2 linked regions of the Homo sapiens genome follow. The protein of the gene in region 1 interacts with the protein of each later gene in a biochemical or structural test. Each region holds a gene or a part of one and is shown on either strand. Other genes may lie near its edges.

Evidence for each region.
Region 2: the proteins of CDC27 (region 1) and ANAPC4 form a complex in vitro, tested with the Homo sapiens proteins (2 studies listed by BioGRID).

What each region holds. Positions count from the first base shown.
Region 1 is NC_000017.11:47,154,696-47,158,445, reverse strand, and holds part of CDC27 (cell division cycle protein 27 homolog), read left to right. Parts: intron 1-142; coding exon 143-240; intron 241-1,061; coding exon 1,062-1,216; intron 1,217-1,321; coding exon 1,322-1,533; intron 1,534-3,581; exon of another isoform or gene 3,582-3,659; coding exon 3,660-3,750. UniProt on the Homo sapiens protein: Component of the anaphase promoting complex/cyclosome (APC/C), a cell cycle-regulated E3 ubiquitin ligase that controls progression through mitosis and the G1 phase of the cell cycle.
Region 2 is NC_000004.12:25,415,116-25,418,865, reverse strand, and holds the end of ANAPC4 (anaphase-promoting complex subunit 4), read right to left. Parts: intron 3,467-3,750; coding exon of another isoform or gene 3,460-3,466; exon of another isoform or gene 3,401-3,459; coding exon 3,326-3,400; intron 2,442-3,325; coding exon 2,268-2,441; intron 1,251-2,267; coding exon 1,127-1,250; intron 712-1,126; coding exon 484-711; 3' UTR 368-483; downstream 1-367. UniProt on the Homo sapiens protein: Component of the anaphase promoting complex/cyclosome (APC/C), a cell cycle-regulated E3 ubiquitin ligase that controls progression through mitosis and the G1 phase of the cell cycle.

The DNA of each region.
Region 1 (3,750 bases):
GGGAGAAATTGGTAACTTAGAGAAGCATCACAAAGAGTGCTCTCTGAACTTCTGTAACTTTTACCTAATTTTTTATACTAAAAGTTTATGATACAGGTTTTGGGGTTTGTAGCTTATTTAATCTACTTGTTTCTCTCCACAGCAAGACAGATCGGCTTGCCAAAGGATCAGAATGTTACCAAAAGAGCCTTAGTTTAAATCCTTTCCTCTGGTCTCCCTTTGAATCATTATGTGAAATAGGTAGGTGGGTGGGGTTGAGAGGTGGGTGGGTTCCCATCTCCTCTTCTTTTTTTCCTGCTACTTAATTTTTGGAGAGCAATACAGATCATCTACCCCCAAGAAAAATATTTTTCAAAGTTAAAATTGAGAATAAAAAATAAGTTAGAATCTTCGGTATGTTTCAAGAATCATATAACTGAAAATTACACAAAGATTAAATCCAGTAGATTCTTCTGTTGAACCAATCTATTTTCAAGTATCTGGTGTCCTCTAGAATGGGTTATATTGTGTGTTTAACACTAGCAAAATTGCTTTCTGAATAAGAAAATTAATAAAATTTCTAATGCAATTAATAAATGCCTGAAACTTACAAGACCTGAACAGTACAGGGAGAGAATTTCTCAGTATATTTGGCCTAGGATACATAAAGGACCATTTTTCAGCATTGTTGCATCTATGTATATATAGAAGGGCTTCAACCTTTACTGTAAAATATGATGGGTTTTAACTCTTCAACCTCATCTCCTACTTTGAGAAAAATGAGATCTAGTTATTTTCAGCTTTAAAACAAACACAGAAATCTGCATTTTTCTGCGATTTGTTATGTTTAAAATTAGTGTTCTTGTAGTTTATTTTCATTTACAGCTTTATCTTACTGGTAAACTTTTATGATATATTGATAGATGGGTTTTTTGGGGGTAAATTTGATTAGCAGAAGTGGACAGGAGATTTTTAAAGTTTGGATAAGGCCTATTTCCTGTTTCCACTGATTTATGCATACTTGAAAAACATGTATTCCTCACTTCCTCAGAGACAAACTTTTTTTTTTTTTGTCTTCACAGGTGAAAAGCCAGATCCTGACCAAACATTTAAATTCACATCTTTACAGAACTTTAGCAACTGTCTGCCCAACTCTTGCACAACACAAGTACCTAATCATAGTTTATCTCACAGACAGCCTGAGACAGTTCTTACGGAAACACCCCAGGACACAATTGTAAGTGTCTTATATTCTAGTGTTCAAAATATTATGAAAACTACAAAGAATGATCTGAACTAAATAATATATTGTGAATGACTTGGTAGAAATTTTCTGTTTCAGGAATTAAACAGATTGAATTTAGAATCTTCCAATTCAAAGTACTCCTTGAATACAGATTCCTCAGTGTCTTATATTGATTCAGCTGTAATTTCACCTGATACTGTCCCACTGGGAACAGGAACTTCCATATTATCTAAACAGGTTCAAAATAAACCAAAAACTGGTCGAAGTTTATTAGGAGGACCAGCAGCTCTTAGTCCATTAACCCCAAGGTAAGTCAAACAAGATACTTTCAAATGTGCTATAATACCAAATGATCTTATGATAACTCATATTGTTAGTAATGCAGATTATTACAACAGCAACTTCTAAATCACTGTGGAAACAGGGGCATTCTGTTTTCAGAAAATGAAGTAAAAACTGGCAAATAGTGATGTTGCCAGGTGCGGTGGCTCATGCCTGTAATCCCAGCACCTTGGGAGGCCAAGGCAGGCAGATCACCTGAGGTCAGGAGTTCAAGAACAGCCTGGCCAACATGGTGAAACCCTGTCTCTACTAAAAATACAAAAATTAGCTGGGCATGGTGGCGGGCGCCTGTAATCCCAGCTACTCAGGAGGCTGAGACAGGAGAATTGCTTGAACCCGGGAGGCGGAGGTTGTAGTGAGCCGAGATGGAGCCACTACACTCCATCCTGGGCGACAGACCAAGACTCCAACTCAAAAAAAATTGATATTGAATATTGGACTGGCCAGGCGCAGTGGCTCACGCCTGTAATCCCAGCACTTTGGGAGACCAAGGTGGGCAGATCACGAGGTCAGGAGATCGAGACCATCCTGGCCAACATGGCGAAACCCCGTCTCTACTAAAAATACAAAAAACTAGCCGGGTGTGGTGGCACGCGCCTGTAGATCCAGCTACTCGGGAGGCTGAGGCAAGAGAATCACTTGAACCCGGGAGACAGAGGTTGCAGTGAGCCGAGATGGTGTCACTGCACTCCAGCCTGGGAGACAGGGCAAGACTCCATCTCAAAAAAAAAATTGGAGGAAAATTTAAAACTCTGAAATATTCCTTAATTAGGTAGTAAACACATTAAAAAATACTGTCTTTATGGCTGTGCATTAATGGATAGCGGTGAGCCTCATGAAATGTTATAATCAGGGCACCACTGGTTACTGTTAAAGTGCCTTTTTCCAAAACATGGAGGAAATTTGACACCTACCTTTTTTTGTTTGAGACAGGATCTCACTCTGTCACCCAGGTTAGAGTGCAGTGGCACAATCATAGCTCACTGCAGCCTCAAATTCTTGGGCTCAAGCGATCCTCCCACCTCAGACTCCTGAGTAGCTGGGACTGCAGGCACATGCCACCACACCTGGCTAATTTTTTAAGTGTTTTTGTAGAGATGGGGTCTTGCTGTGTTGCCCAAGCTGATCTGGAACTCCTGGCCTCTAGTGATCCTCCTGCTGTGGCCTCCCAAAGTGCTAGGATTACCGTGAGCCACTGAACCTAGCTGTCACACCTATTAATATAAAATATTTTATCAAAATTATTAGAAGTATATGTATGTATAAATACAGGAACTCAGCCCAGAGGATACATATCCAAAAGTATCAAAATGAAAAATTATGTGCTAGAATGGGTTGGGCATGGGGGCTCATGCCTGTAATCCCAGCACTTTGGGAGGCTGAGGTGGGCAGATCACTTGAGACCAGGAGCTCAAGACCAGTCTGGCCAACATGGTGAAACCCTATCTCTACTAAAATTACAAAAATTAGCCCGGCATGGTGACACATACGTGTAATCCCAGGTACTTTGGGGGTTGAGGCACAAGAATCATTTGAACCCAGCAGGTGGAGGTTGCAGTGAGCTGAGATCATGCCACTGCACTCCAGCCTGGGCAACAGAGCGAGACTCTGTCTCAAAAAAATATATACATATATGCTAGAAGAAATTCTATGAATCAGGTCCTGAGGCCGGGGAACTACTAAAATAGCATGACCATGAGATTACAACTCTGGAGAGTTATAGTTATCTAATGGTCTCTAGAGACATTTTCTCTGTAGTTGTGTCTAAATCCCATAAATTCCAAGAATTTGAAGTAATCTCATCATTTGGATCTTAGATTTATAAAGCTACTCTTCTTTATTTCTAATAAATCTCCTGAGATCAGTAATTGTTGCTCAGTTTAGTTCCTTGTTTGATAGCTTTTTAAAATTTTAGTTATGGTGGGTGGAATAGTCTACATTCACAGCTTATTTTTAATCTGCCCCTCAGATCCTCACTGTCCCTAAGACTGATTTGCCATTCTCTTCCTTTTAGACCTTCTAATTTAAGTATACTGCTGCTTTATATATGCCTTGATGACTTTTTGACACCTTGATTTCAACCTCTTCTCAGTTTTGGGATTTTGCCATTAGAAACCCCAAGTCCTGGAGATGGATCCTATTTACAAAACTACACTAATACACCTCCTGTAATTGATGTGCCA
Region 2 (3,750 bases), on another chromosome or scaffold:
CAGGCTGGATGGAGTGCAATGGCGCAATCTCAGCCCACTGAAACCTCTGGCTCCCAGGTTTAAGCGATTCTCATGCCTCAGCCTCCCAAGTGGCTGGAATTATAGGGGCATGCACCACGCCCAGCTCATTTTTGTATTTTTAGTAGAGACGGGGTTTTGCCATGTTGGCCAGGCTGGTCTTGAACTCCTGACTTCAGGTGAGCCACCCACCTCAGACTCCCAAAGTGCTGAGATTACCAGCATGAGCCACCATGCCTGGCCCTGTTTTCTTTAAACACTAGTTCTGCACATAGCATTAAAGAGAAAGCTCAGAAAAAATAAAGTCTATCATAGTGACTATATCACTAAGAGAAGATGAAGCAGAATATGAAAAAATAAAATTTACTGTTTATTTCTTTGTTACACAAAGGTGGTCCAAGACATCTTAGTCCATCTCCTATGTCCTTTTGGCCATAATTACACACACAATAATGGCAAGCTAGATTAGGAGTCTAGCTCAGGGTCAAGTTTTTCCACTTTAATGACTATCTCTGGAGCTAAAGCGGCAGCACCAGCTTGTTGGTTCTCTGCCTCTGACTCCGACAACACTTCTTCCTTTATTTTTACAGGCTTATTACTGGCCTCCTCCTCTTCATCTGAAGACTCATCGAGCTCCCATTCATCATCTATGTCCATTTCAAATACTCTCACATGACGAAGATTTGAGCTTAACTAAAAAAGAAAAGGCCATAAAAGCATTTTTAAATTAATGGCTTATCATATATAAAGAATTAGAAATCAGAAGTCTGAATCAAAGAATGGTTTTATAGGAAAGTTATATTCCCATCAATTTACAACAAAATCAATAAATTCAGCCTTCATTTTGTATAAAAAGATCTCCACATAACAACAGTGGCAATTTCGTGAGATTAAAATCTAGTATTATTATTAACTACTTAGTAAGCTTTATCAGAACAAGAACTAAATAGCTAAGGCCACCACATGATCATAATCAATACAAGCTATAAATCACAGTAAAAATATTTGCACAAAAGGACCTTATATATCATGTATTTGATGAAGGTTCCAAAGAAGCAACGTTACTTCTTGTAATTTCTTAGTTGCTGAACGATCTCTAAACACTTACCACACAGGACACTTTTCGAAAACCATTCCCAGCAACATACTGTGCTTTCATACTTTCCAGTAATCTCCAGTGCTTCTCAAAATGCATGGTACGGGTGGGAATAGCACTACACTGTTCATCTAGCCTAAAGAGGGAAAAAAACCAACTCAGGAATGAAAAGGGGATCTTATCCTCCCTAGTTTTACTACAGGTGGTATTAGGGTCAATTATGGTTTTGACTTCTACTCATACTTCTATTTCCAATATAATTTTAGCAACTGTTGTGTTAGAAAAAAAGCTGTGATATAATATTCTATAAAAATTCCATATTCTATATTCTGGCTAGGCACAGTGGCTCATGCCTGGAATCTCAGCACTTTGCGAGGCCAAGGTGGGAGGATTGCTTGAGTCCAGGAGTTCAAGGCCAGCCTGGGCAACATAGTAAGACTCTATCTCTGTAAAAAAATAAAATTAGTCAGGCAAGGTGGCACATGCCTGTAGTCCCAGCTATGAGAGGCTGAGGCAGGAGGGTCACTTGAGCCCATGAGTTGGAGGCTGCAGTGAGCTATGATTGCGTCACTGCACTCCAACCTGGGTGACAAAGAGAGGCCCTGTTTCAAAAAAAAAAAAGAAAAGAAATACTGTAATTCCAAACAGGCAGAATATCATCTTAGCAAGGTTTCTGACTCCCTTTCAAAGAAAGCAAATGGATACATTTTTAAATTAGAGATCTGCTTACTTAAGTCTCAGTCAATTAAAGCCATCTCTTGGAATTGACAGTATACTTCCTACATGGGTACTGAGGTCTTAATTCTGGAAGGAAAATACTGAAGGCAAATCAAAAATAACTAATTCCAACCAACTAGGGTTAATGCTATCCTTAAAAATGTAACTAAAAGAAGTCCCATTATCCACTCCAAATAATTCCCCACCTTGATTCCAGCAAATACTTCCTGATTTACTAGTAAAGCAAAGGGACAAAAAAAGCTATTAAGGCCAGCATATTTTGAATGAAAAATTGGAGCATTTCTGCTCAGCTACCTCTGTGGTTATCTCTAGTAACGAAATAACCATTATCTAGCGTACCTAAAAGGTTGGAATTTATAATGTGCATTAAAAAAACATTTAACTGTAATATCAGAAAGACAATGTTACTAGTTACCTTGTAGAATAAGTCCCAGTGAACTGATATTCTGCAGAATCTTCACTGTTATATACTAAAGACAAAGGCAGCTGGACCAAGAGTCTATCTCTTCCTTCACGTCCTACAGTGTCTTTAAGAACTACTGTTACAGTTTCATCATCATAAAACTGTGCATCTAAACAACTGTAGATGCTAGAATTAAAATAAGTTTTGTTATATCAAAGATGATCGTGACTACTGAGAAAATATTGTATGCATGTTATACTGGCAGCAAGCAGAAAAAAATTTAAAAGTTAAGTGACATTCTGTACAATAACATTTAAAATATATCATTGGTTTGTATTAAAATCAGTTACTTTTTGTACTGATTATTCACATATATAACCAAATCTTAAAAATGGGTAATCATGACCCCCAAAAATCTGTGAAGTTGTTTCAGTTCTAGAAAGCCCCTGGCCATCAATGGTTAGGCCTTAAGCCTGTGGAAATTCTATGAATGACACCTTATATACACATTCAGCAGAGTTGACTAGACTGAGAAATAAAAATAAGATACTACACATGAAAAATAGGCACAGCAACTCCAAGGACTTTATCATAAAAAAACTTATTTTATGTGAGGAAAAAAGTGAGAAAAAGATCAGCCTATGATTAGTCACTTCTTTCCCTTGCGAAGCCTCAGGGATGGCTTAGGTACTGTTACCATTTTGAATCCTAAGAAAATCTCCCATCACTAAGAATGGCATCACCTCATAATTTTTTTTGGTCGTAACAAGAACTTCAGCCCTGCAGGCCATCTGCCCATGGGAACCACATTACTTTCTTTGTCAACAGGGAGCTCAGGAGTATTAATTATAGGAAACCGTACGACATAAACTGCAGGGCAGTAAGGTTCTATTCAATCACAAGTCAAATCATTCTCTATGTATAAATACACAAAGAATCCTGCCCTTGATGTGGGAAGTGGCAAAGCCCTTTTACCTATATTACCACCGTAACTGAGTCTGATCCTATTCCTAAACATATACACATATCACATGTATCTACATTTCATCCAAACAAGATTCAAGACTTACCTTCTTCTGACTTTTTCTGTTGTGGCATATGTAAAGCTCCCAAATTTAATAGCAATTAGTCCATTACTCACAGATCTTCAAGAAAGAAGGGGGAAAAAAAGAGACTCTGTGGAACAACCTGGATAGTCAATAATCTAAAGGCTTAAAAGAACATGATTGTCAGGGTCAGTACATGTACTTCTTTAGAACACTGAGAACTTGTTTAAATGCCTAGATAGATAAACCAATTTGGTTTAAAATCACACAGTCACCAAAGACATTTGGAATAGAAATAACCCAATTATTTCTTTTTGGTTACATCGTGGTCTCAACATTTTCTTCAAATTCAGGTTTAAAACCATTTTTAAGCTACCAATGGCGTTCTAAATATGATTTATTTTTCAGAACTTCTACTTTCAATTTCAAAGTAAGTCTCTGTTAGGCAA